Linked DNA regions of Homo sapiens. The protein of the gene in region 5 purifies or fractionates together with the protein of the main gene of each other region. This does not show direct contact. Each region holds a gene or a part of one and is shown on either strand. Other genes may lie near its edges.

The links.
Region 1: the proteins of GAN (region 5) and VCPIP1 purify together in Homo sapiens (co-immunoprecipitation; 3 studies listed by BioGRID and IntAct, with this or other methods). This does not show direct contact.
Region 2: the proteins of GAN (region 5) and INA purify together in Homo sapiens (affinity purification with mass spectrometry; 3 studies listed by BioGRID and IntAct, with this or other methods). This does not show direct contact.
Region 3: the proteins of GAN (region 5) and EIF3B purify together in Homo sapiens (affinity purification with mass spectrometry, with the first as the bait; one study listed by BioGRID). This does not show direct contact.
Region 4: the proteins of GAN (region 5) and ZMYM3 purify together in Homo sapiens (affinity purification with mass spectrometry; 2 studies listed by BioGRID and IntAct, with this or other methods). This does not show direct contact.
Region 6: the proteins of GAN (region 5) and CCDC73 purify together in Homo sapiens (affinity purification with mass spectrometry, with the first as the bait; one study listed by BioGRID). This does not show direct contact.
Region 7: the proteins of GAN (region 5) and CTU1 purify together in Homo sapiens (affinity purification with mass spectrometry; 2 studies listed by BioGRID and IntAct, with this or other methods). This does not show direct contact.

What each region holds. Positions count from the first base shown.
Region 1 is NC_000008.11:66,656,879-66,661,051, forward strand, and holds part of VCPIP1 (deubiquitinating protein VCPIP1), read right to left. Parts: intron 1-4,173. UniProt on the Homo sapiens protein: Deubiquitinating enzyme involved in DNA repair and reassembly of the Golgi apparatus and the endoplasmic reticulum following mitosis. Necessary for VCP-mediated reassembly of Golgi stacks after mitosis.
Region 2 is NC_000010.11:103,279,779-103,283,951, reverse strand, and holds part of INA (alpha-internexin), read right to left. Parts: intron 1-4,173. UniProt on the Homo sapiens protein: Class-IV neuronal intermediate filament that is able to self-assemble. It is involved in the morphogenesis of neurons.
Region 3 is NC_000007.14:2,364,607-2,368,779, reverse strand, and holds part of EIF3B (eukaryotic translation initiation factor 3 subunit B), read right to left. Parts: intron 2,464-4,173; coding exon 2,332-2,463; intron 2,256-2,331; coding exon 2,189-2,255; intron 1,847-2,188; coding exon of another isoform or gene 1,823-1,846; exon of another isoform or gene 1,808-1,822; intron 1,782-1,807; coding exon 1,735-1,781; intron 1-1,734.
Region 4 is NC_000023.11:71,241,560-71,244,740, forward strand, and holds part of ZMYM3 (zinc finger MYM-type protein 3), read right to left. Parts: intron 2,912-3,181; coding exon 2,743-2,911; intron 2,422-2,742; coding exon 2,270-2,421; intron 1,526-2,269; coding exon 1,411-1,525; intron 866-1,410; coding exon 611-865; intron 1-610. UniProt on the Homo sapiens protein: Plays a role in the regulation of cell morphology and cytoskeletal organization.
Region 5 is NC_000016.10:81,317,623-81,321,795, forward strand, and holds part of GAN (gigaxonin), read left to right. Parts: intron 1-4,173. UniProt on the Homo sapiens protein: Probable cytoskeletal component that directly or indirectly plays an important role in neurofilament architecture.
Region 6 is NC_000011.10:32,655,002-32,659,174, forward strand, and holds part of CCDC73 (coiled-coil domain-containing protein 73), read right to left. Parts: intron 1-4,173.
Region 7 is NC_000019.10:51,097,975-51,102,147, forward strand, and holds part of CTU1 (cytoplasmic tRNA 2-thiolation protein 1), read right to left. Parts: intron 1,166-4,173; coding exon 627-1,165; 3' UTR 1-626.

The DNA.
Region 1 (4,173 bases), on a different chromosome or scaffold from region 5:
TGGGATTACAGGCTTGAGCCACTGCACCCAGCCTATTTAATTTTTGAGACAGAATCTTGCTCTGTCCCCCAGCCTGAAGTGCAGTGGCGCAATCTCTGTTCACTGAAACCTCCACTTCCCGGGTTCAAGCAATTCTCGTGCCTCAGCCTCCCGAGTAGCTGGGATTACAGGTGTGCGCCACCACTCCCGGCTAATTTTGTATTTCTAGTAGAGATAGGGTTTCTCCATGTTGGCCAGGCTAGTCTCAAACTCCTGATCTCAGACAATTTGTCCATCTCGGCCTCCCAAAGTACTGGGATTACAAGTGTAAGCCACCATGCCCAGCCAAAATGTATTTTTAAAGCCCCAAAAGAAACACCCAAAACGAACTCTGAACTCAACTATTTATGACCATAAAATGAAGTACTTGTTTATTTAAATTTAAAATTTAAAGAAACAATTCAAAATTTTTTAATAATTTGAATAAATGGTTCCAAATATAAAGTAGGAACACAGGACTGTTTCAACTAGACAGAATTCCAAAGGTAAAGGTATTCATTTGCTGAAAGAATTGTTGGCATCTCTCTACCCTTCCTGACGTAATCCTCACGTTTAAAAGTTTATCTACCCTATTGATAGTCAAAATGGTTTATAAAAAAGGCATATCTGTTTCTTGCCTGAAATTCAGTCCCCTTAACGGTATATAGTCACACAACTTTAGTGTCACCAGCAGCATTAATGAATATTTTTATCATACACAGACATGCACACAAACTCAACAGTGTTTAAATGTGTACAGAGTCTGAAAGGACACATCCCAATTTATTAATAATGATTTTATCTGGGGAGTACAAATGTTAAGAACTACCATATTTTATAGGTACTTGAATTATTTGAATTTTAAACATTATATTGTAATTGAAAAAATATTTAAAATAAAAGTGATCAAAGTAGTTGGAACAGAATCTATTATTATCTAGATTTCCTTTTCTATCTAGAAAGGAATAACATCAATATTTGACTTAATTTTCAAAGTATAATTATATAAAATCACCATTTACAATATATACATTTATCTTAAGATACACCTATGCATTATTTTTTATTCAACTTTATAACTGCTCTCCCATTACAAGTATGCTACATATAAATCAACAGAAGGGCTATCAGAAGGCATAGAAAGAATAATAATATGCAGCCAGACACGGTGGCTCACGCCTGTAATCCCAGCACTTTGGGAGGCCCAGGTGGGCGGATCACGAGGTCAGGAGTTCGAGACCAGCCCAGCCAACATGGTGAAACCCCGTCTCTACTAAAAATACAAAAATTAGCCAGGTGTTGTGGCAGGCGCCTGTAATTCCAGCTACTCGGGAGGCTGAGGCAGGAGAATCGCTTGAAACTGGGAGGCAGAGGTTGCAGTGAGCCGAGATTGCACCACTGCACTCCAGCCTGAGCGACAGAGCAAGGCTCCATCTTGGGGAAAAAAAAAAAAAAAAAGAAGAATATGCATAAGTACTATCTAGATTTGAAACTGCCCTTTACCCAACATTTGAAAAAAAAAAAGGTGCAATAATAATATTCAGTTGTCACCTAAAAAATAAGTGTCTCAGTCCCAAGCGTGATTCTGGAAAATTCTTTTTTTCTTTTTTTGAGACAGAGTCTCACTCTGTCACCAGGCTGGAGTGCAATGGCATGATCTTGGCTCACTACAACCTCCGCCTCCTGGGTTCAAGTGATTCTCCTGCCTCAACCTCCTGAGTAGCTGGGATTACAGGCGAGCGCCATCATGCCCGGCTAATTTTTGTATTTTTAGTAGAGACGGGGTTTCACCATCTTGGCCAGCCTGGTCTCAAACTCCTGACCTCATGATCCACCCGCCTCAGCCTCCCAAAATGCTGGATTAAATGCGTGAGCCACCGCACCCAGCCGATTCTGGAAAATTCTAAGGCATTTACGACATCAAGAGGTATTATGAAATTACAAAATATTGTGTATTTTAAATATATATATACGTTAAAAAGCCACACAATTCTTTCAGGAACAGAGAAAGTATATCAAAATGAAACAAGTTTCTCAACTCCTGAAAGGTTGGTACACTTTGTAGTAAAGCAAGGAAGTGTCATGTAGCCTAATTTCATTTAAGTAACTCCAAACTGACAAATTCTGTTCTTCACCTAAATCTGTCCTTACCTCTAGGAAAACAAAAAAACAAACAAAACTAGAAACTTAATGAAATATAACACTAAGAAAAAATAAATTAGCCCAAATATTTATGGTGGATAATGTACCACCTATCCTGTCTACCATGAAAGAAAACCTACAAATAACTGATCTACAAGAAATTTTTTTTTTTTTTTTGGAAAGAGTGTTGCTCTGTTGCCCAGACTGGAGTGCAGTGGCGCAATCTTGGCTCACTGCAACCGCACCAGGTCTACAAGAAATCTGAATGACATATTTTGCAAAGCCAGAGTTAGTCTTTTAAGTATTATATAAATAATGAAGATGACTGTCTGCAAAAAATTAAGTTCAATTACTTTGTGGTCTGGATAAAAGAGATTAAAAATGTAAAATATTATGGGTAAAATATTGTTATTCCATTTTATAGTTCCTAAGATTCAAAGTTACTAGGTTCCATGAATGACTTGTACTAAGCCAAAGACTAATACACCTACTTATTGTTTTATTAATATAAGTAATAGACGATCTAATCAATGAATATCCTACTTAAAAATGAAAGAAAAAGCTCATGTCCCTGGCTATCATGCAGTCAGCCCATTTAGTGAAAACATACAGGCCGGGTGCAGTGGCTCACGCCTGTAATCCTAGCACTTTGGGAAGCCGAGGCGGTGGATTGTCTGAGCTCAGGAGTTCGAGACCAGCATGGGCAACGTGGCGAAACCCCATCTCTACTAAAAATACAAAAAATTAGCTGGGCGTGGTGGTGCGCACCTGTAGTCCCAGCTACTTGAGAGGTTGAGAATCACTTGGACCCAGGAAGCAGAGGTTGCAGTGAGCTGGGATCACACCACTGCACTCCAGGCTGGGCGACAATCTGTCTCCAGAAAAAAAAAAGAAAGAAAATATACAATCCCCATGTATATATTTGATTCTTAATCAAATGAGAAGTTCTAAAATGCTGTGTTGGTCCTATTTGGGGATTTTATAATTTTTATGTATTTAGAAAATAAAGCTGGAGATCTGCTGATGAAAGCTAAAAAGTATGGAACTCCTTCAGCTGAAAGCCTGCAGGTAAGTTAATGGAGGGCAAGCACTGACTTTCATTTATCTTTGTACACTCAACATACATACAAGTTCATAGTATACACTGATTTTGCTGAAATAATTGCATTCATTAATCCAACAAGCATTTACTTGGTACCTACTATGTGCCAGGCCCTGAACTAGGAAATAAGGTATTGATTAGTGAAGAAAATAGGGTTCAGTCTCTGTCTTGATGGACTTTATAATATAGTGGGGGAGGCAAACAAATAATTAAACCAACAAATAAGATTATTAAAAATTGTGATAGATGCCGTGAGGGACATCAACAGGGTACACTGATAGAGGGAACCTACTTAGAATGGTCAGCAAAGTTTTCTCAAACCCTTACAGGGTGGTGGTATTTAAGCCTAAACTTAAACGAGAAAGAACCAGCTATTTGAACAGCATAAAGTCTGATGAGCTATATTCTAAACTAACATAACACAGCTTAGCTCACATTTGGTAATTCACAAAGTAATTTCTGCACTTTGAAATCTGTAATCTTCTAAACAAGCTCTGTCATTTTCTAGTCCTCTCCAATCTAAACATCAACAGTTCCCCAGTACTCTTTACATATGGTTAGTATTTATCCCCAAACTGAATTTTGTAGGAACATCTTTTTTTTTAAATTAAGAATATCTTCGGCCAGGCGCAGTGGCTCATGCCTGTAATCCCAGCACTTTGGGAGGCCGAGGAGGGCGGATCCCCTGAGGTCGGGAGTTCAAGACCAGCCTGACCAACATGGAGAAACTCTCTCTCTATTAAAATACAAAAATTAGCTGGGTGTGGTGGCACGTGCTTGTAATCCCAGCTACTTGGGAGGCTGAGGCACGACAATTGCTTGAACCCAGGAGGCAGAGGTTGCAGTGAGCCGAGATCGCACCACTGCACTCCAGCCTGGCGACACTGCGAGACTCTGTCTCAAAAAAAAAA
Region 2 (4,173 bases), on a different chromosome or scaffold from region 5:
GGTGAAACTATGGTCTCTACTAAAAATACAAAAATTAGCTGGGCGTGGTGGCGTGTGCCTGTAATCCCAGCTACTCTGGAGGCTGAGGTAGGAGAATCACTTGAACCTGGGAGGCAGAGGTTGCAGTGAGCTGAGATCGTGCCATTGCACTCCAGCCTGGGCAACAAGAGCAAAACTCCATCTCAAAAAAAAAAAAAAAAAAAGAAACAGTGATGCAGATAAACATATCAGAAACCTCAAGAAAGTAAGTGTTGACAGGCCCTTGAAACTCCCCTTGTGTGAGAATGATAAAGCAATGGTGAAAGGTAGGGCTGAGACATCAGGGGGTACAAACTTCCAAATCAAGAGAATTTGCAGAATTAAAATTCATACCACCTACCTGTTCTATAAATATTGACAGGAATACTGCAAAGAGGAGTCTCAATTGACTGATGGGTACAGAACAAGGAATGACAGTCAGTAGGAAAAATACGTATTATACTGGACCGTGATGCATATATTTCAAAGTGTGTTAAGAGATCATGAGGCCTTAAAGAGATTTTTACCAAGAAATTTTACCTGATAGTTCCTATTTGAGGTTATAATCAATTCTGCTACTGACATAGAATCACTGACATAGACCCTCTAGCTACTGACAAGAGAATCAATATTACTGTGGTAAGAGGGAAAAGAGTCTAGAGTGAGGGAAAAAGGAGAAAGAAGAAAATATGATTATGCAAAGAAGGAGGAGGAATGCTATATGAAGATAAGAGGAGGATTTCATCAGGAACTTGGGTTGCAGTTTTTGCTCTGCCACTAACATCCATTGGACCTCAGCCAGTTTTCTACATTTTAGTTCCTTCCAATCTTCTACTTCTGCATACGGAAAGTTATGTTTACTCTTTTTCTAAGGTGTTCTGAGATCCTCAAATTAGGATTTCAATTTAATATATCTCACATATACATTAATATATGATGAGTCCATTATCTGTTAAATTAGTAGGCATCAGAACAGCATGGCACACAGGAAGAACTCAATAAATGTTAGTGATTTTTATTCTTGATAATATCATACCACATGGCCCTCTATCCTTTTGATGATATAGACAAATTAATCACAAGCCCTCACTATTACCAACCCCTTAGATAACTACGAAAAGTAACATATAACAACACTTTAATATTGGATAGTTGGAGGCATATACCTTAAAGCACCAGATTTTTTTTTTTAATAACAATTTTGAATAAAAAGCCTTTCTAAAGTGGCTTATACCACTCACAATCAGGACACTAAACATAATGCCACCTTCCACAGCAATTAAGGGTCATGATAATAATCAATTTTAAAAATAATTCGGTGACATCTTTTAGGTCATTCGAGGTATATCAGGCTGTTTAATTCTACCCTAAATGGCCCCAAAGTGCGGTGTTTGGATTAGTGTTGATGCTCATTGATTTTCTTTGTTCTGAAAGATGAACGGATCTGCTGCTGCTCATTCTTAACAATGCCTGACTCCAGTGGTCCCCATTCTCCATCTTGCTGCAGTCTTGAAACCAAATAAAAAAGCATTTTGAAATCGTGTTAAGAATGAATAGGCTGGGGGCAGTAGAGGTGCCAAGTTCCTAATGTTTGGCTTAGAGATAGATGATATGTCTCATCAGCAGGTTAATTAGGTCCTTGCTTAAAACATTATTTTTGTTTCACAGCTGTGTTTTCTGAATAAGAGGTGGTTGGGGAGCTGAGTTCTAGACAGATGAGATTTCCTTGAACTTCTATGTTGCAGATTTCATATATCTATTTTACAGATCACTGTAGAGAAAAGCACAACTTTGCTCCTTTCAGAAGGAAGTGTGCTGTGTTCTGACCATTGATTGCTCTTCAATGTCTGGTCTCTTTGTTTGTGCTCTCCTCCCCACATCAGGCTGTGTCTTGCATTGCCCTTCAGAAGCCCTGCCAAAGATGGCCTCCAGCTCGAGATCTGAGCAGAGCGCTGCAGTCTGTCCCCTCCCCCAACCACGCAGCTGCTGCCGGCTTAGCCTGAGGGAACCGGAGAGCGGCACGCCCAGCTCCAGCTGGGGTCTCTCCTGGAGGAGCTAAGACAAACGCTGAGCATCGTCTTAGCTCGTCTGAGCATCGCAGCCCGTGGCTGGAAGGATGCCGGGTGGAGTAAGAGAAATGAATGGCCACACTAACATCTGCAGTGGTGAAGAAGAACGACAGAGCTGTGGATTTCAGCACGTTTGGGGGCCCTGGGTCAGGGAGGCAGTAGTGAGTGCCCCACAGTCTGATTGAAAGAGGCTATTTAGAATTACTGCTCTGCATAATCAACTTGAGTGGGGACGGAGGATTTTTATTTGTGGTTCACCATGCGTGCTTTATTCTCACTCCTACCTTTCCTTTGTCCCCATCTTTTTCTTTCCTCCACCACACTCGAAAATCCTGTATTATACGTATCTCCGTAAACTACTTTACTGGAAGAAGTGGTTTAGATCAATGTACTCCAAAGTCAGTCTGAGGACCAACAGGATGCAGCACTTTTATTGAAAAATGCATATTCCCGGGCCCTACCTGTGAACTGCTGAATCCATATCTTTGGGAGTGGGCCTGATAATTTTTTTAAGCCCCCAATTGACCTTAGAGTGTCACTGGGTTTAGGATCCACTAGTTTAAATTTTTTTCTATAAAGATGCTATCATGGTAGCCCAGGTGACAGTAATACAGTAAGATAGGGAGGGGCAAACAAAACAAAATGAAACAAAAACCAGGTGGAAGAGCTTAAAAAAGATCAAATGTAGCTAATTTTAGAAATGGATCTATCAAGCTATGGATTTATATGCAGCCACTGTCACCTCCAGTCTCCAAGGGGCCAGCCCCTTCCTGCTATTTAATTAGGCTGTACTCCAATCTCATAATGGAGAAAAAAGAGAAGACTTGGCTTGTCTCCCTGGAGAGCATTAACCTGCGGTGATCTTGATCATTCAGCAAGGTCTTTCAAGGAAAGCTTCAACTTTCCAAGACTGACCACAGTAGAGGTCTGAGACCCTGAGTACCCTCCAAGAATGTCTTTGGACATCTTTAACAGAACTAGGACTCTAATGGTGCCGAAGTGGCTATGTAGGCACCAGCATTGCCCTATGTCAGAAATGGAAACCCCATCAGCTTTTTATGCAGAGGGGAGTTGCATTTGGCTTTTGAAGACAATAGCCTTAGCTCTTCCTAATCTCTTCTCTTGCCTGATTCAGACTCTCTCATCCACTATTGTGTACTTACTGTGTCACCGTGAATCATTTTTTACCCTTTCAAAAGTGTAAGAAGCTTTCTCTCCTTAAATAGGCTATCAGCTATCTGGGGCAGAGAAGATGGGACTTTAATGGGGCCTTCCTATGTTTCATAGAGGGTGCCAAGTTTGAAAAGAAAAATGGCCCTACCACTAATCTCTGTAGCAGAAGAAGGAGAACAGCCTCCCATTACTGCAGTGAAAGGTGGGGATGAGATGAGAGGGCAAGAAAACAATGGCTAAATCTCACTGTAGAAAGGGAGGCTTTTCACCTTGGTCAGCACTGCTAAGATTGTTAGAACAGTCAGAGACACCCTTGTGGCATCAGGCCGTTAGGATCTGCAGGTAAGACTTGAGCTCCACCTTAGCCTTAGGTCCCAAGGAGTAGGGAACCAGCTCTCTGTTGTCTGACCTCCTCTTCCACTCCCATCAGCAGGTCCTCTGTGGCTCTAAAGGCTCAAGCTGATGGGGGCAGCACCGCAGAGCTGCAGATGCTGCAGTTTCTCTGTTGTTGTTTTTTGTTTGTTTCCTGTAGACCATGTCTGGATGACGCTACCATTGTCTAATGATGAAAGCCTTTTACAGCAAACAAGCCAGGCAAAACTGTCACTACTTCTTAGAATGTATGGGCTATAACAAGCAGAGAAAATGGAGAAGCCCAATTCAGCTGGCAGCTCTGAGTAAGTTATCCTTTTTTTGTAGAAATACTGGGCTAGCCCTCCAGAAGACCACCTAGCTCGTACTTGGAGGCTTCTAGAAGAAAAAAATGAAGTCTCAATTAGCCAAATGTGATTAATTCAGGCCATCCAGGGGTTAGGGTACATAATGAAAAGTTCAAGTTATGGATTTTGAGGCAGAAATGGAAGTACTTATTTGAATGATAATGCAATACCAAACTAACCTAAACAGTCCAAGC
Region 3 (4,173 bases), on a different chromosome or scaffold from region 5:
AATAAAAACGTGCCCATTCTTTGCTGGTGAAAATGAGCCGAAGGCTCCCCAAACCCTGCCTCGGATGGAAGAGTACCAGGAAAACCTTTCACCTAAGCAGAGTCCCCTCTTTTCCTTAAAAGGCTGGAAACCCCACCCTCCTCAGTTTCTAGATCAAAGACGAGGTAGATGGAAGGAAGCCGACTCAAGGCTCTGGCCTTGAAAATTCATTTCTAGGCACGGGAAGGGGTCACTGAAGTGGTGCCTCAAGGGTGGCGGGCCCAATGCTGAGCAGCCTTGCTGCCCACTGACTCAAGCCTCCATCCTTGTGTCCAGAACAAACTCACCTTAGGCCGGGCGCGGTGGCTCACACCTGTAATCCCTGCACTTTGAGAGGCTGAGGCGGGCAGGCGGATCACTTGAGGTCAGGAGTTCGAGACCAGCCTGGCCAACATGGTGAAACCCCGACTCTTCTAAAATATACAAAAAATTAGCTGGGCGTAGTGGTTGCGCGCCTGTAATTCCAGCTACTCAGGAGACTGAAGCACCAGAATCGTTTGAACCTGGGAGGTGAAGGCTGCAGTCAGCCGAGATCACGCCACTGTACTCCAGCCTGGGCAACAGAGTAAGACTCTGTCTCAAAAAAGATTTAAAAATGGCTGGGTGTGGTGGCTCACGCCAGTAATCCCAGCACTTTGGGAGGCTGAGGTGGGCAGATCACTTGAGGTCAGGAGTTCTGAGACCAGCATGGCCAACACAGTGAAACCCCATCTCTACTAAAAATACAAAAATTAGCTAGGCATGGTGGCAGGCACCTGCAGTCCCAGCTACTTGGGAGTCTAAGGCAAGGAGAATCACTTGAACCCAGGAGGTGGAAATTGCAGTGAGCCAAGATCTCGCCACTCTACACCAGCCTGCAAGACAGAGTAAGACTCTGCCTCAAAAAAAAAAAAAAAAAAAAAAAAAAAAAAAAAATTTTAAAAAAAGAACAAACTCACCGTTTTCTCTCCAACTGGTTAAGAACTGAGTGACAGGCTGGGCATGGTGGCTCACGCCTGTAATCTCAGCACTTTGGGAGGCTGAGGCGGGCAGATCACAAGGTCAGGAGTTTGAGACCAGCCCAGCCAACATGGTGAAACCCCATCCCTACTAAAAATACAAAAATTAGCCGGGCTTGGTGGCACATGCCTGTAGTCCCAGCTACTCGGGAGGTTGAGGCAGAAGAATCACTTGAACCCAGGAGGTGGAGGTTGCAGCGAGCCAAGATCGTATCACTGCACTCCAGCCTGACGGAGCGAGACTCTGTCTCTAACAACAACAACAAAAAGCTGAGTGCTAAAGGAGAGACAGCAAATAAAGGAAACCAACTGCAATGGACCACGTCTGTGTCCCCCAGATTCACAGGGTGAAATTCTAACCCCCTGGGGTGACGGCATGGGGTGGGGCCTTTTGGGGGGTGGGAGGTCCTGAGGGGGAAGCCCTTGGGAATGAGATGAGAGACTTTACAGAACAGGCCACGGAGGCCTTCCTCCAGGGAAGGCTGGACCGAGGGGCTGTCCACTAGGAGGGAGGTGGGCCGTCACCAGACAGTCTGCAGGCACCCTGACCTCAAGCTCCCAAGCTCCAGAACTGGGAGAAAGAAATCTCAGCTGTCATAAGCCACCCAGCCTATGGTATTGTGTTTTTTTTTTTTTTTTTGGTATTGTGTTAAGCAGCCTGAACACACTAAGACACCAAACTGATAAGAATACTCACTTTATCCCAGAGATCTTCAAACTCTTCTTGTCCAAAAGACCCATAGACTGCCCAAAAAAAAGGAAGGCTGCAGTTGAGTCAAATCATGTCAGTGTCTCAGAAACACACCTAACTTTTTACAAAAGGAAACAAGAGTCTGATGTGAGTTTGCCTAGGGGGCAGTGCACACAGAGCGTGACAGTGAACCCATCCACCCACCCGCCACCCAGAACTGCAGTTCTGAAGCCCACTGCATTAACTCCCATCCAGGACTTCCCACGGCTGCGCCAGGTGGGCAGGAGTGACTGAAGAGCTCTGCCCAGAGCAGGGGCAGTTAAAAAGGCACAGGAGACAGGCCTTTCCTATGCATCTGTGAAACCTCCTCCTCCTCTTCTAGCACAAATAAGGAAAGGCACCACACCCCGGTTACAAGCAAGGACCGGACGGGGCGTTTGCCATCACTGAGGCCACTTACAGGAGTTTCATAGATGCTAAGCGTATCCAGGGTCATTCTGGCAAAGAATTTGCCATCATGGCTCCACCTAAGAAAAACAAAAGTGCCAGGGTATTCCCATGAAAAGACAAAGGCTACAGAGCTCGTTACAATGGTCCACTTACTTAAAAATAGGCCAATGGGCTGAGCTCTCACAGTGAAAACCCCTCTTCTTGTGCCCCGTAAGGATGTCCCAGATGATTATGGCCTGAGGGTCATCCTGCGTGTCCATCAGGGGGCTAAAGGTCACCAGGTACCTAGAAGAGAAGGGCAACACTGTACACTATCCTCCTCTCACGAGAGGATCACAGTCTGTCTGTGCGGCCAGAACACGCCGTCAGAACTCGCGGAACCAGCTCTCTCCCCAAACCCCACACTGCCCGGCCCCAAGAGACCCAAGCGGAAGCGGGAAGCAGCGGCGCTTGTTCATTCTGGTGTCAATACGCTGCAGGCGCTCCGGTTTCTCCAAGATCAGCACAGAAGATCTCACCGATCCCACACAAGGCTGCTAAGTGATCCAGAGGGTGGCGCAGTGTGGAACTCTATCTTTACCCATGTTTAATAAAGACTAACAAGTTAAAAAAATACGGCTGGGCGCAGTGGCTCACACCTGTAATCCCAGCACTTTGGGAGGCCGAGGTGGGTGGATCACCCAAGGTCCGGAGTTTAAGACAAGCTTGGCCAACCATGGCCGACATGGTGAGACCCTGTCTCTACTAAAAATACAAAAATTAGCCGGGCGTGGTGGCAGGCACTTGTAATCCCAGCTACTCAGGAGGCTGAGGCAGGAGAATAGCTTGAACCCGGGAGGTGGAGGTTGCAGTGAACTGGTATCGTGCCACTACATTCCAGTCTGGGCGACGCATGAAACTCAGTTTCAAAAAAAAAAAAAACAAAACAAACAAACAAACAAACAAACAAAAAAACAAGTCCCATCCAGTTCGAAAGCCAGCACAGGTCTGATAGAAACTTCAGAGCCTGGGGGCTCCTCCCAGCCATGATTTACCTGACTGCTGGCTTGTCTGGAGCTACTGCACCTGCTTACTCAGTTCACACAAAGTGTGTAACAGACGGTCCCTTACAACACCAGAGGGGAAGGCAGACACAACCCATGAGGGCGAAAACAGAGCGGCCCCAGCTCGCCTCGCACTGCCTTCCACAACTGCCCCTTTCCCTAGAGTGGCCCCCGTTCGCCTCACACTGCCTTCCACAACTGTCCCTTTCCCTAGAGTGGCCCCAGCTCGCCTCACACTGCCTCCCACAACCGCCCCTTTCCCTAGCAGGCCTCCGACAGCCGGATTAGCTAGATCAAAAATCACGGCTCGGCCAGGTGCGGTGGCTCACGCCTGTAATCCCAGCACTCTGGGAGGTCAAGGCAGGAGATCACTTGAGCCCAGGGGTTCAAGACTACCTTGTACAACAAAGTGAGACCCCCATCTCTACAAAAAATAAAATTAGCCATATGTCATGGCGTGTGCCTGCGGTCCCCGCTACTCAGGAAGGCTGAGGTGGGAGAACCGCTTGACCTGGGAGGCTGGGGTTGCAATGAGCCTGCAATGGTGCCACTGGGTGGCGCCAAGCCTGGGTGATAGAGGAAGGACAATTTATTATCTGTAAAATACGTGACCTTAGACTAGATCCTGAACTGAAGGAAAGTAAGTATTATACAGAACATTATTAGGTCAAGTAACAAAATCAGAATATGGCAATACATTGAAGTATTAAATGAATGGTAAATCCCTGAAGTCAGTACCCACACTATGGTCACACTAACAAAATCCTATTTCTAGGAATACACATTCAGGGCTAAAGGGACATGTTATTTCAACTCACTCCCAAATGGCTCAGGAAAAAATATCTGTATAGGAGATGATGACGTAAATGCAACCAAATGTGAGAAGATCTCAGTAAAAAGCTTATTAGCGTTCTGCATACTCCCGTATTTTTCTACTAAGTTTGAAATGCTA
Region 4 (3,181 bases), on a different chromosome or scaffold from region 5:
AAAGACTCTCTTTAAAATCTCCCCCAAGTTGCTATCTTGAAGAGGTGATCTCAGAAGTTATTCAAAAGACCTGATAAAACAGACCCTACTGCAAGGGTGGGCTTGCCTTCTGGGATAGAGAAACAGCAATGACCCCAACCCCTTGTGCATTAGTCCAGGTAGAAGCATGGGTCCAGAGAAAGGACCTTGGAAACTTCACTCAGACAGGACAGAAGTCCAGGGACAGAAAAAATGGAAACCAAGGTGCAGTTGTTGTTAGACCCGATAGCAAAGAATCACAGAAAGCCTGTCATTCTACCCTCCCCGACAGCCAAACACACCCAATGGTTTCCTACCTGTCCACCACCCAGAAAAAGCAGGCAAGCAAGTAAACTGTCTTAAATGAGGAAAGAGGGGAAACAGGCCAGAGGGTGACCTCTTATTTATGCAACAGCTACTGCCTATCAGGTAGGAGGACTGGCTGTTTCTACCCTTTCTGCACACAGGAACAGGAGAGGGAAGCTAGGCGCCAAGGAGAGGGCCGACCTGGCAGGTATGGTGGGTTATGGCAGGGCATGGAAGGGGAAGGCAGAGAAGGGGCAAAAGCACAGGGGAGGGGGCAGCCTCGTACCTCGCCCTTTCCTCTGGCGGACTGGGGCATAGTAGCGGATGCTCACCACCTTGGTGGTGCCCCGAGGGGTGGTACACTTGCGGGACTGCCGCACCACATTGGTGAAGGAGAGTTGCATGTGTTCCTCAGCTGTCTGCAGCCCAAAAAACTTAGTGTTGAAGAACATGAGGGTGTTGAGGAGGACAAAGGGCGAGTAGACCCCCAGTTGCTTACACTCCCAGAGGTGCTCCTCCTCCACTCGAGAGAACACCGTATCTACAATGGTCAAGGGGGAGAGGCCAGTCAGGAGGGAGTGGCTACCCAAACCCAACCACTTCCCATCCCATGTGCCCTGCTCATTTCCCACACAATTCTCATTTGGTGAGTAACCTTTGTATATAAAACACTGTCACTTCGCTACACTTGCTACACTACACAGTGGGACTGGGCTTTAAAAAATATATACTTTCCACACCTGCATTTGGAACGCCTCTCACCACCCTCAAGTTGTAGACAAGTAAATGTAAACCTTGAGGAGTCCCACGATTTCTTGCTTTCTTTCTTTACTTACCACCCAAACCCAGGCCATCTTTTTCTGGTCCTAGAGATAGCTCTTCAGACCTAAGTCTTGATCCCCATCTCACGTTCAAGAACAGGCGCTCCTGTGCTCCTTTAACTCTAAACCCTGAGGCATCCAGCTACACGCTCCTGCCCTCGGGCCCTTTGTGAAGAGTGGCAGACCAAACAGCACAGGACTCTCGGGATGGTGGATTGGAAGAATGGAGAAAGCGGGTAGGGGTTGCTACGTCCCTGTTCCTTACTGTTGGGGAGGAGTGTGGGCTGCCAGGTACTCAGAGACTTGTTGAGTTCTTGAACAAAAGTCAGGTAGTAAAGGTCCGTGAAAATGTTCACCATCCGGTTATTTTCCAGCAAGTACTGGGGAAAGAAAAACAGACACACCTAAGGCTAGACTGTAGGTCCTAGAAGAAAGATAATGATGCTGAAGCCCCCAGGTATGGTGTCCTTGATCATTAGGAGACGATGGGAAACAGTTGCTTGATTAGGTGGCCTCGAGTGCTTTCCCCCAGGTATACCCACAGCTCTGCGCTACTCAGGCTTTGCTCGAAGAGGAGGAGGCTTGGAGGAGATGTTCTTTAGAAGCCCACACCTCCTTCTCAGGTAATACATGGTTGACTTCTCCCAGGGGGAACTAAACATTACCCCAGCACTCAAGGATCCCAGCTCCACCCATCCCTCCCCTCCTAGAATGGGCTTAAAGATTACAAAGGGGACCTGGATAGCAATGAAGACTGCTCCTTGGCCAACGGTCCTGGAATGCAGTTTTGATTTTAGAAGAGTATTGATATCTCATGTTCTATTTGGAGTAGGAGATTAAAGGCAAGCTGCCTGCTTCAGGTAGGGGACAAGATGAGGAACAGGGAGTGCAACAGAATAACTGCTTTTTTTTTTCATTAAAAAAATATTTTTTGGGTAGATGGGTATCACTTTGTTGCCCAGGCTGGTCTCAAACTCCTGGCTTGAAGCGATCCTCCTGCCTCAGCCTCCCAAAGTGTTGGGATTACAGGCGTGAGCCACCGTGCCTAACCCAGAATCATTTCTGTTTAGACCCTGCCTGCTGTGTTAAGAGTGACAGGAAGTGAGGTGGTGCACAAGAGGTACCTGCTGGATGCCAAGACACAAATAGTAGATACTGTCAGGTTCATATCGTTCACCATTGGGCCGAGTGATTTCTCTCACAAACTGGGCCAGACCGTAGTTGAGCTCAGCAGCTGAGCAGGCGAGAATATCCTCTTTGATACGCATGGGTTTGGCTGCAGTGATATGTTGTGCAGGGACAGGATTAAGAAAAACTCTACATGGAGAATTTCACTTAGCTCCATCACCATTAACCCCTCCATCCCTTAGTCATGCCTAGCTCCTGAACAATTACAGAAAGAGCCCCTAACCTGGAACCTAGACAGCATTTCCCTTTAATCTACAACTCCTCCCCATCTTCACAGGGCATCCTTAAGGGATCACACCCTTATCACTTCTAGACATCTTCAGCTGAATCACAGGCCCAGCCCCTTCTCCCCTTTCCCCTCCTCCTCCCTGTCCCTGCCTCCCCACACCCCCCATCCCCAAGTACTTACGGCCAAAGCGCAGCTCATCACCCTTGCTGGTTTCTCCATTGGCATATTTTGACTGCACCCAGCACTTCCAAGCATTGACACCATATGAATAGTTGAGCCCGGTACAACTAGGCTGACTGCTCATGGAGTCCCGGGAGCAGCTTTCGGAAAGCACCAGCCGCTTTTGACCCTGGAGGGGAAGAGAAAGCAGGGGCATGGCAGAGGTAAGGCCAGAGGCAAGGTGAAAGCTAGTCAGCACCATATTTACTGCTGGCCGGGGCAGGGGCTGATGTAAGCACACAGCAAGCTTCCATAGCACAGAGCCCCAGGAACAGCTTTGATGACCTTGTGAGATGGGGGGAGAGCAAAGTTTGGCTTTATCTCAGTACTTCTAGTGTTGGAGAAAGGAGGTTAGGGAAGGTCAAACTATGGTTGCTGGCTTGGCTCTCGCATCATCTCC
Region 5 (4,173 bases):
GTGTTATGAGGTTATTAGTACTTAATGGTTGAACTAGGATTAGACTCCAAATTAATTACGGCTAACCGCCTTCCTACTCTTGCCCTACCACGTTAGAGCATTACTTGTATTTCACCGTTCTCTTTGTGTAAACTTTACTGTTAGCTGGCTTACAATATCTTAGAATTAAAATGTTTATCAAGCACTTTTACATACTGTGTCATTTTGGTTTCCATTTTCAATCATCTTTAAAGAGAAGGCAGATTTTTTTTTTTTATGTTTTGTGGATAAACATGAATCAGTCAATATGTGTTTCATCAGTGACAGATGAATTGCTTTAAGTTTATTTGGCTATTGAAGTGATAGAATGTCTTGGGATGTTTTTAAAAATTATCAATTCCGAAGCTGTTTCAAAGTAATTTGACGAATCTGTATCACTAACTAGAAAGAAATTTGTTAATTTTGTATTTTTACTGGTAATTTTAATACCAATAATATTGGGCTTTTATAATGTACTTGTTTGTTTGAATAGCACTTTAGAGAATTATATTGAAACAAAATATATTTATGTATTCTAGAACTTGATGTTTCTTATCTTTCCCTTTTGAAACTTAAGCATTTAGATCTGTGATATCATTAATCTGTGAATTGAATGTTCAAAAGTTTGGTAATCTCTGAAGTTTTATAAAATTCTGATTTTGTTTAATGTCTGTGTTTGGCCTAGTGTTGGTAACTGTCATAAGTGGTTGTGTGATTGTGTGGTTTAGAAGCAGTGGTATGGCCTGGCATGGTAGCTCACACCTGTAATCCTAGCACTGTGAGAGGTGGAGGCGGGAGGATCGTTTGAGGTCAGGAGTTCGAGACTAGCCTGGGCAACATAGTGAGACCCAGTCTGTACAATAATAAATCATGTATATAAAAAATAGGAGCAGTATTGTCTTTTGCTTACTATGTGCCCAACAAAGGAAGCCAGTCCAACTCTGTCACACTGGGAATTAAAGTAACTTGTTTGGCATACTTTCTACTTAATATAGAAAAGTCTTTTGACTTATTGGTTTAATCTTTTATTCTGCTTTATCTTTGGTCTAGCCCTTGTTTTTCCTGCTGACACCCTTAGCAATCCTACCATATTAGAAAGATTTTAAATATAAAAGGAAAAGGCCAGAAAACTCAGCTTTGGCAACACACCCTCATGGTCAGCTCAGAGAGGACTGGCATCCCCGGGTTATGTAGAGAGAGCACGTGTCATGCAGCCCTAGGGTGCAGCTGCTCCAGGAAGGAGGCAGGACCTCCTGCGGTCCCTCAGCTCAGTAAATGGCATGCATGCCCCTTTCCCAGCATGCTCCTTTCCCAAAGCTTTTCCTCCTTTTGGTTCCTGGGTGAGATTTTCTCTTTGGTTTGTTGGGGAAACTAAACCTAAAAGTAGTTGACAGGCTGGGCGCAGTGGCTCATGGCTGTAATTACAGCACTTCGGGAGGCTGAGGCGGGAGGATCCCTTGACCCCGGGAGTTCCAGGATGCAGTGAGCTATGACTGCCACTGCACTGCAGCCTGCCTGGGTGACAGAGACCCTGTCTCTTAAATTAAAAAAAAAATAGATATAGATTATATATATATATATATATCTAACAACCTTTCTAAGAATGGCAAAACCGAATTCATAGTCATAAGCACCCACAGAGCCTTTTCTTTCTCATCAACTCTGAGACCTTCTGGGGAAAGCTCCCTGCGGCTTGCAGGAAATTTATTTTTCTTTTGAATATTACAGTTTGGTCTGCTTCATGTCTGAGGCTCTTCCGATTCTGGCACAGTCCCATTGATCTGATGCAAAGTTCAGACCCATTTCTCTCCTGAGCTGTGGTTCTTGGTGAGTAATGTATGTGAAAAGGATTTGAAAATGAACGGCTATGTGCTTCTGCAGTGACATTATGGTGGCTCTGTACAGGTTTCCAGTCCTGTGATCACTTGTAAAATTTAGGGTTTTCTGGAGACCTATTGCAACAAAAGTTTGTTTAGCTCTCAGTCCTGGAGAGAAAATGAAAAAAAAGATTCCTAAGATTTTTAGATCCTTTGATGAGTCAGCTAAGAATGTAAGTGGCTTCCCCCCGACCCCCCCTTATTTTTTGAGAGAAGGCAGGTCTAGTGAGGATAGAATGAGACATAGGGCCTCAAATCCAGCCTAGGTCATCATGAGCGACTTTTCTGGGCTCTAGCTTCCTTATCTGTGAAGTGAGGTGGTTGGGCTACATGGACAGCAAATCCCCTTTAAGTCTAAGTTATGTAGCTCTATGCTATTTTTGTTTTGCCTCATGTGTATGTGTTGTGAGGAGGAGGACCTGTTTCTGTTTTTATAGCTTTATTGTGTCATTTAAAGTTTTGTTTTATGTTAATATTAAAGCATTTCCATTCCCCTGTCATACAGGACTTTATTGGGTATTCTGTTGTATAAATCCAGGCCTGTAGAGTTGTATCACAACAATCATTTATTTTATGCTGTTAATCTGGGTATGTTCCAAGGCCTAATTATTGATGAGCCTGTTTTGCCATTTAAATATAAAGTTTGACTCACAGATGATACTGATGAAACTACTTAAGGAGACTAATAGGATCTCTGTAGGAGGTCCAAGTTTCATAGTAACATAGACATTATTTTTTGAATATCTGAAACATACACTGTAGTTTAATGTCACATGGGCACTAAAGTCCGTGAGTACTATGTGGTGTGTGCAGAGCCTGCTTTTCATCCCCAGTTTACTTTTGTTGATTAATTTATGTGAATAACTGCATAGCCTCTTATTAGATTCTTTGCTTCCCTGTTAATGCTGAGAATACACTCCCGAGGCAGCAGTATCCACTAAGTGTTCCCTGGTAATGAGAGTCTGGCTGTGAAGCAAAGTGATTTCACAGTAATGTTCAGTTAATAATGTTTTGCTTTCTTTACAATATTTTCATAATCTTTTCTTCACTTGTGTTTCGAGTTTATAGTCTTCATAGCAGCTCCCGAATGATTGTCATAAGGATCTTGAATAGTGATTGTAGCCTGTGAAGTTTCTTAGTGCTCAGGGGTTCAGTTAGAAGCTCCAGTTTCTGAGTATCTTTTGAAATCCTGAGCACACTTAAAATAAAATTGACATTACCTGTTCCTTGTACTCTTATGGTGATGGAAAATAAGCTGGGCTTGAGTCTCTTTTAAGGGATCTAGACTTTGTTTTTATCTACTTACTATAAGGCGTTCCTAACAACTGCTCAGAAGATGAAATTTGTCCAGAAGGTCTTGATAGTTTAATGGTTCTCAGTGATTTTCCTTTTCTTTTTTTTTTCCTTTTTTCTTTTTTGTAATCACAACCTTGTTTGATTAAACCCTATTCTTACTGAGTTTTTCAAAAGCGATAATAACTATGTTCAGTTTCAGAAGATCAAAGACATATTTTATCCAGGCTTCTAAGGAAACTAAGCACTTGTAAATTTCAATTTAACACAGATTACTCATGTCAGTTTAAAGATATTTGTTTATTTTATATAACACAGTGGTTGCCACTATTAGTAGCAGTAGATGTTCTAATTCTGGAGAGGTTTTTGGAAGGTTTCAAATGATGAAACAAATCAACAAAATTCTTGTTAGACTAGTGTCTGTAGCATAGAGGGAAGTGTGGGGTGTTCAGATTTATCGTAGAACTTTCCCGAGGATTGTTATTATGAGTAATAGTAATGTGATAGGAGTAAAACCTAGCTCTGGTTAATTTTCTCTAGTGGATAAGTCCTCACTCTTTTACCTATACTGTTTTTACTTCTGCCTCTTCTTATAGTTTGCATTTTCTCCTGTGATGTCTCCTTCAATGTTCTTAAATTAGTTTTTGTTATATAATTTAGGATTGAAGTAAAATGCTCTTCCACATAGAAACTCTGGTTCCTTAGGATTTATATTTGGATGATATAGAGTAAGCATCCAGTTTTCAAAACCGCCTTATCCATTGTTTAAAGTGTTAATGAGTTCTTATGATATCAAAGTGGGACTTAAAATCTATTTATAATTTGTAAGGAAAACATAATTAGGACAAATAAGGGTTCATTTGGTCTGTGAGTGCCATGCAATAAGTTCTTCACAGGGTTGCATCATCCTTCTGAAAGACACAAGACTATCATTTTGTGTACTAAAGCTGTAATATAAATGAATGATTTGTGAGTTTGAATTCTG
Region 6 (4,173 bases), on a different chromosome or scaffold from region 5:
TCAGTACACATATTTCACTAAAACAAGGTACTTTCCTGACAGTTTCAAAGTTCATCCTTAAGCCTATAATTATAATTTGTTATAATTCCCTTGCAAGTTCCCTTGCAAGATTAGCCAAGGTGGGAACATAATCTGCGGTTGTGGATCAGGCAAAGTTAATCAATCATAAAGAGATTGACTGCATGACTTTTAATCTTAAAAGGAGTGTACTAACAAAATCAACTAACTAACCAGAAGTACAGTGTTTCCATTATTTATTAAACAAATACCTTCTGAGATAAAAAGATAACAAGGAAATCTCAATTCCCAAATTTATTAGCCTCTAATAGGAAAAATTATGTAAGAAATAATTACAATACAATGTAATGAGTGCTATATTAGAAAAATGAATAAAAAACATAAACTGTATCAAAACGGTATTACATGTGAAGGTGCTATTTGAACTGAATCTTTAAAGATCAATTTGCAAAGAAGACAACAAAGGGGTAGGCATTCCAGGCAAAAGGTTCTACATGCACAAAGCCACAGAAACATGAAAGAGAACGATATTTTTCAGGGAAACAGAACTAATAAGATATGACTGGAGCTAATGTGTTATTTCAGGGGACAGAGTAGAATATTGGTAGTTGTGTCTAGAAATTTGGCAGGATTCAAGTATTGAGAAGGACTTGTACGTTACGCTACAGAGTTTGAATGTTATACTATAAAACAAAATGGGGAATTAACCACTGAAGGATTCTGAGTAGAAGAATGACATAACAAAATTTGCATTTTAGAAAAATAACTCTGGCAGTGTTGTGGAGGGTGGAACTGAAGGATGTAAAAGCAGTCTTCATTTATGAAGTCACATGTTCATTGAGTTTAGCAGATACCAATTAAACACATTAAAATCTTGAAATACCAACTTTTGAATTAGTGTGCAATTGATTGTGCTGTTCTTCTGTGTATATTGACTATATTAAATACTCAAGAATCTGATTTTCGGTCTCGGCTACACAGTATCTGAACTCCCTTATAAAGTTAGTACCTGGCATCTTTGCTTCTCAGGTAGGCAGTGGGCAGTTTTTCTTTTCTTTTCTTTTCTTTTTTTTTTTGAGACGGCGTCTTGCTCTGTCGCCCAGACTGGAGTGCAGTGGCACGATCTCGGCTCACTGCAAGCTCCGCCTCCTGGGTTTGTGCCATTCTTCTGCCTCAGCCTCCCGAGCAGCTGGGACTACAGGCGCCCACCACCACGCCCGGCTAATTTTTTTTGTATTTTTAGTAGAGACGGGGTTTCACCATGTTAGCCAGGATGGTCTCGATCTCCTGACCTTCTGATCCGCCCGCCTCGGCCTCCCAAAGTGCTGGGATTACAGGCGTGAGCCACCGCGCCCGGCCAGTTTTTCTACATTATAAGAGCCGGCTGCCTACCAGAGAAGCAAAGATGCCAGGTACCAGCTTTATAAGCATGAGGCTAGGCTCTGCTAATCTCATGCACCTGTCTTGGATATTGGATTAGTTATCACAAAAAAACAAGGACTACTGCAAATCCATCTGTTGGTAGATAGTCAGGGAAGTGTAGTAACTTCAAGCTTCTATGGGTGAGTGATACCGCAGCAGCAGCATCAGCAGCATCCACTATGGTCAGCAATGATGGTATAAGCTGTGATATACAGTATTCAAAAGTGGAAGCTGGTTTTATGCTATAGTCTTGGATACTGCATAGCCTCCCTTGTTTGTAATCATTTTTCAAGTCCGAGATAACCAATGCCCTTCCAATAAATTCCTTTGCTGACTAAATCAGTGTGCAATTAAGAATCCTGACTACTTAATTTTTTTAAAGGTCTTAAGAACTGGATAAACAACAAACTTTTGACTCTTGTAGAAGTAAGTTGATTTATTAGAGTGGCAAGATTATAGGAAATTTTTATTTTCTTCATTATGTGATTAGTATTTTCTATTTTTCGTAAAATAAAAACATTTTTTGTAGTTTTAAAATCGTATTTAAGCTGTAAAAACAGGTACTATCACATAGAGAGTTATTAGAGGATAGAAAATGGAAAATGACTCAATCCTAAGAAAAATTCATAGATTAGAGAAGAAGCCAGTATATAAGGCTGAGAAATAAAGTCAACTGAGATAGGAGGAAACCCAAAAGGAAGCTGAAAGAGGAGCAGCAGAAAACAGGGCTACTAATACCTTCAAAGTTCTACATGTTACAGCTTTAGCCACCCAGGGAAAAACTCACCCAAGTATATCCTAACTCCAAATTCAAAATCCAGGAGAAAGGACTCATTGGTCTTAGTTCAAATATCACCTTTGGATATGTACACTGCATAAAATGACTGCTAAAGTAACCACGTGAGTCAAGAGATAGGGCTCTATTCTTAGAAAAGCAGGCAGACAAATTGATGTCTGGCATAAAGAGAACAATTAGTATATATCGAAGGAATGAACCAAAGTTTGAATGAAGGGGGTAGACCTTGAGCTGGGCCTTGAAGAATGAGTAGTATAGTGGATATCCTCCATTTATCACTCCTGATTCACTTCCCACCCTTTCTCCACACTGCTCTGTGCCCTATGTGGCTGATATCTGTGGGTATAGCAAACTCTCTGCCTTCTGGCTCCTGATTGGGTTAAATCTGTGGGAGGTACTAGTAGATCAGTAGGCTATAAAGAGAAAGAGAATGAGGTATTTTACCAGCTCCCTCCCTACTAACCACAAATTGGTAATACCTCTATATCTTTACCAAAGATCACAGCTAATCCTAGTGATTTGGGAGGCTAAGGCAGGAGGATTGCTTGAAGCCAAGAGTTCAAAACTATTCTGGGCAACAAAGCAAGACCCTGTCTCTAAATAAATAAAAAGATAAGCCAGGCATGATGGTGTATGCCTCTGGTCCTAGCTACTCAGGAAGCTGAAGCTGGAGGATCACTTGAGCCTAGGAGTTCAAAGCTGCAGTGACCGATAATTGCGCCACAGTGACCCCCCACCGCCCCCATCTCTTAAAAATAAAAACCCACCCCCTACCCTAGTCTCTTTAAAAAAAAAAAAGAAAAAGAAAAAAAAACCCCACAGCTTCTGCCTTAGGCTTTCTTCTGCAGCTATAGCTACAGCTCTTTCCAGATTCCAGCATCTGCTTCATTCCCTTATCTCTTCAGGTACAGGTGTGCTAATCATTCTCCCACTACTTTTATCTGTGGGGTGCTTCACCATCCCTTGTTGTTTTCCCTTACCTCTGTCTACAACTACGTAAATAGCTTTCATTTACGTAGTTCATTAATCTTTTCTCAATTACCATTCCACCGTGCCACCTCTTTCCTGGTCCAACCCTGTTTAGTACAAGTACATTGAGAGAAAGCATTTCAAGTATGGGAAGGGATGTAGAGGAAAACAAAACCAAAAGGCAGAAAGAACTAAGAATTATGCTAATGGCAACAAAGAATTTTGGCTAAAATAGAATGGAAGATGCTTGTTAAGAAGCAATAACAAACAATATTGAACATGTAGAATGGACCAGATCATGAAAGCTCTGGAAAGCCAATTAAAGAAGCCTGGGACTTGATTTGGTAGGCAAAGGAGAATTATTTATCATTTCTTCTACATATACCAAGTACCTCCTGTGTGTCAGGCACATAGAAGTTAAATCAGTATCTTAGTAAACTTAGTCTGGCAAAAAGAATGAATAAAAACTTGAGAAAAGAACACTGGCTAAGAGGCTATTATATTAATCCAGGCATGAGATGATGAGTGTCTATAGTATTGAAAAATGGAAAGTAAAAAATATGAGACATTCTAAAAAAAAATATAATAGACTGAACAAAGAGAATAAAGGAAAAAGATGAGTCAAAAATGAGTCAAAGATGATTCTAGAGTGACTAAGTGAAACTGGAAGAAAGGAAAAGGGGACCATGAAATGCGAAAGGAAGAAACACAAAAATGGAAAGGAAATAGAAAGTGTGCTTCACTGATGGAAGAGACAAAAAGTATATTTAAAATTACACAAAATAAGAGACAGAAAATGTCCTGAGACAGATTCTTTCAAAAGCTAAAAAAATACAAATTATTAAGCCTGAACCATAGGTTAACTATTCTCAAAAAAGTCCTTCATTTACATTTTTTTCAAATTACAAAAGGCTGAACATGAGGAATTCCCTCAAATAAAGTTTCTATGTATCAGTCATGATTCACCT
Region 7 (4,173 bases), on a different chromosome or scaffold from region 5:
GCCAGTGAGACCGTGGTGGAGACGAAATGAGGGTGCAGTGCGTGCTACACACGAAGCGCTGGAAGGGAGGCATCGTGACGGCGGCTGTGAATGGCGTGTGTCCATCAAGTCACGCTCCGCTTACCCCACTGCGGGCAAACAGGAAACATCAGGAATCTGATGCTCAAGGAGGGTCAGGACCATGCTGAGCGCACCCAGAACCAGCAGAGGCCCTGGGCAGGAGGTCCCCAACCAATCCCCACTCGCTCAAGAATCACACGGTGTTCAGCCCCCTCCTCCCTGAGACCCAGGAGTCCACGACCCCAGGCCCTCCTTCCTCAGCCACAGATGCCTGGGGTCCCCAGTCCCACTTCTTCTAGGCTTAGTCCTGGCCCTCTCCTCTCTCAGACCTAGGATGGTCCCCCAGCCCCCTCCTCCCTCAGAGCCTGAAGCCCAGTTCGAGACCCTTCTTCCCTGAGACCTCGAAGTCTGGGGTCCCAGCTTCTTCAGGGTTTCAGGTGAATGGGCCCCCGTCTCCTTCCCAACCCCACATGGAAGGCCAGGTAAGGTAACGGGTTTATTCACAGTGTCATTTACAGGCAGCCCCCACCCCGCGGCATCAGATCCCGGCGGGAGGCCCGAAGTCGCTAGAAGGTGGGGACGGCCTTGGAGGCGGGGGGCCGGGCCGGATCCCCGGGCGTCCCCGGCGTCGCCTCCTCGTCCAGACCCCGGCGGCCCTTGCCGATGGCCAGGCGGGGCCGGCCGCGGTTCAGGCCGTCCAGGAGCGCGCAGGCCTGGCAGAGCGCGCGGCTGGCCAGCGCCCCACAGCGGGAGCAGGCGCCGGGGCGCGGGGGCCGCGCGGCCGGGGCCAGCGCCAGGCGCTCGGCCGAGTGCACGAGGTCCAGCACCGCGGACGGCCGCGCCGCCTCCAGGCGCTTGAGCAGGTCCCGGGCGTGGCCGCGGAAGGCCTCGGGCGCGTAGACGCACTCCTCGGAGAAGTAGTCGAGGCGGCGGAAGTGCGCGTACAGCACCACCTCCTTCTGCGAGGCGAACTGCAGCGGGCGGCAGCGCGGCAGGGCGCCCCCCTCGCCGGGAGAGCCCAGGCCCCCGCCCCGGGCCAGCCGCCCCGCGTCGCCCCGTAGGAAGTTCATGAGCACGGTCTCCGCCATGTCGTCGGCGTTGTGACCTGGTGGGGAGAGAAGGGAGCGGGTGAGGTGGGGCGCGGAGGGCGCTGCTGGCCAGGGAGCCCCCCGGGGAACCAAGGGTCCACCAGGACCCAGAGAGAGACTGGGAGGAGAGACCCACGGAGACCCAGGGCACAGTGGGGCCGCCAGGACCCAGAGAGAGACGGCGACGGGGAGAGCAAGCCATGGAGACAGACCCCCAAACATGGTGTGACAGCCAGGATCCAGAGACAGGGAGGGGGAGAGAGAGCCATGGAGACCCCTAGGGCACTGTGGGCAACCAGGACGCAGAGAGAGACGGGGAGGGCAAGAGCGAGCCATGGAGACCCTCCGGGAACCGTGAAGCAGCCAGGTGCAGGCTGCAGGTGGACACAACAAAAAATCAAAGAGAAACATAAGCTCCCCTGGCGCAACTTGGGCGTGCCTTCATGTACCACCCGCCTACTGCATAGCGGACCTTATGCTAGTTGCCCTTTCATATAGGGAGTAAAAGTGCATTATGCTGCTAATAACCTTATCAGCCTCAGTTAAAACCGTAATTCAAACTGTACACAAAAATCAGAAGGCATTTAAGGCATTTAACCGAGATTCTCAGGAGAGCTGGAGGGGTAGGCAGGCTGCTGTCTCCCCCACCGCCTAGGGAATCCATGGCCTAATTCTGGGAACCTGTTAATATGTTTGGTTGTAGGACAAAGGGGAATTAAGGTTGCAAGTTGAATTGGGGCTGCTAATCAGCTGACTTTACAATAGGGACAGAATGGTGCGTTATCCAGGTGCGCTCAAGGTAATCACAAAGACCCTTAGAGGGGAGGAGGGAGGCAGAAAAGGGAGAGATAGGGCCATGGAGACCTTTGAACATAGTGGGCAGCCAGGACCCAGAGAGAGATGGGGAGGGGAAGCCTGAGCCATGGAGCCCCTCTGGCACCATAGGACAGCCAGGACCCAGAGACCGGGAGAGGGAGATGGGGCCATGGAGCCCCCTGGGCACTGTGGTGCAGCTAGGTGGTGGCTGGAGGTGGACACAGCAGGAATTGAGAGGGGAACACACACAAGCTCCCTGGGGAACTTGGGGATACCTCATTTGCCACCCGCCTACTGCATATGGGGGGTGTGAGGGCAGAGGCAAGGTTAGAGTGATGCAAACGGTGTAGGACTCAAACTGCCATCCTTGGCTTTGAAAATGGAGGAAGAGCCGGGCACAGTGGCTCATGCCTGTAATCCCAGCACTTTGGGAGGCTAAGGTGGGAGAATCACCTGAGGCCACGAGTTTGAGACCAGCCTGGCCAACATGGCAAAACCCCCATCTCTACTAAAAATACAAAAATTAGCAGGTCATGGTGGCAGGCACCTGTAACCCCAGCTGAGGCATGAGAATCTCTTGAACCTGGGAGGGAGAGGTTGCAGTGAGCCGAGATCACTCCACTGCACTCCAGCCTGGGCTCCACAGCAAGACTCTGTCTCAAAAGAAAAAAAAGAAAAGAAAATGGAGGAAGGGACCATCAGCCAGGAATGTGGGCAGCCTCCGGAAGCTGGAAAAGGCAAGGAAATGGACCCCCTTGCCCCAGAGCCTCCAGGAGAAAGGCAGCACTCTTGACACTTTGATTTTAGCCCGGTGAGACTTCCCAGACTTCTATCTACAGAACTACAAGATAATAAATCTGTGTTGTTTAAAGCTGTGAAATTTGAAGTAATTTGTTACAGCAGCCAGAGAAAACAACTGGTTCTTGACACAGAGCCTCTGACAACCCAGACTGTAGTTTTTTTATGGTTTTTTTTTTTCATTTTGTTTTATTGTGCGTGTGTGTGTGTGTGTGTGTGTGTGTTTGAGACAGGGTCTCACTTTAGTGCCCAGGCTGGAGGACAGTGGCACGATCTCAGCTCACTGCAACCTCTGTCTCCAGGGCTTAAGTGATCCCCCTGCCTCAGCCTCCAGAGTAGCTGGGACCACAGGTGTGTGCCACCATGCCCAGCTAATTTTTGTATTTCTATACAGACGCAGTTTCTCCATGTTGGCCAGGCTGGTCTTGAACTCCTCTGAGCTCAAGTGATCCACCTGCCTCGGCCTCCCAAAGCGGCTGGGATTACTAGCATGTGTCACCACCCCTGTAATCACTGCAGTGTTTTTGTGTTATCTTTGTTTAGAAGTAACAGTGAGAAATATTTACACACTGGTCACCATGAAATTGAAGCTAAACTTGTTCTGTGTCTTGTCAAGTTATACTTGAGTCTATATCAGTGGTTCTCAATCTGGGATGAGTCTGCCCTCCTTCCCTCCCCCAGAGACATTTGGCAATGGCTGGAGACATTTCTGTGTGTCAGGTTGGGGGTGGGGCACTACTATTAAATAGCATCTAGTGGGTAGAGGCCAGGGATACTGCTAAAATCCTATAACACAGAGGACAGCTCCCTAAAAACAAACTATCTGGCCCCAAATATCAATAGGGCTGAAGTTGAGAGGCCCTGGTCTATATGGTAAAAAACCTCCAAGAACTTGGCTCTAATTGTGTTTGTAGTAATGGTTACCTCCCAAAGACCTGCCAAGCCCTGTGACCTTGAGATTGGGCATGTTTGCTACTGCAAACGACATCTCGTTGAATGTTTATTGACTTAAAGTTGTAAACCACATTAATTAGGGGAGACTGGATTTGCTCCACACCTTGTCATTACAAACCCACTTAAGAGCTCCCAGTTTTGTAATAATTATTACAACAATTATTATACTACGCCTTTGAAAATGGAGTGTATAAACAAAGGGTAGAAATCACCTTGCAAGTCAGGGATTTTTCTGGAAGGCTTCATTACTTTTGGAAGTACAATTAATAAGTGATTCTATCAAATTAACTTTAAAATCCGAGGCAGCCTCTCATTCTTTTTTTTTCTCCCCCAGCTGGAATCTTGCTCTGTCACCCAGGCTGGAGTGCAGTGGCGTGATCTCGACTCACTGCAACCTCCGCCTCCCGGGTTCAAGCAATTCTCCTGCCTCAGCCTCCCGTGTAGCTGGGATTACAGC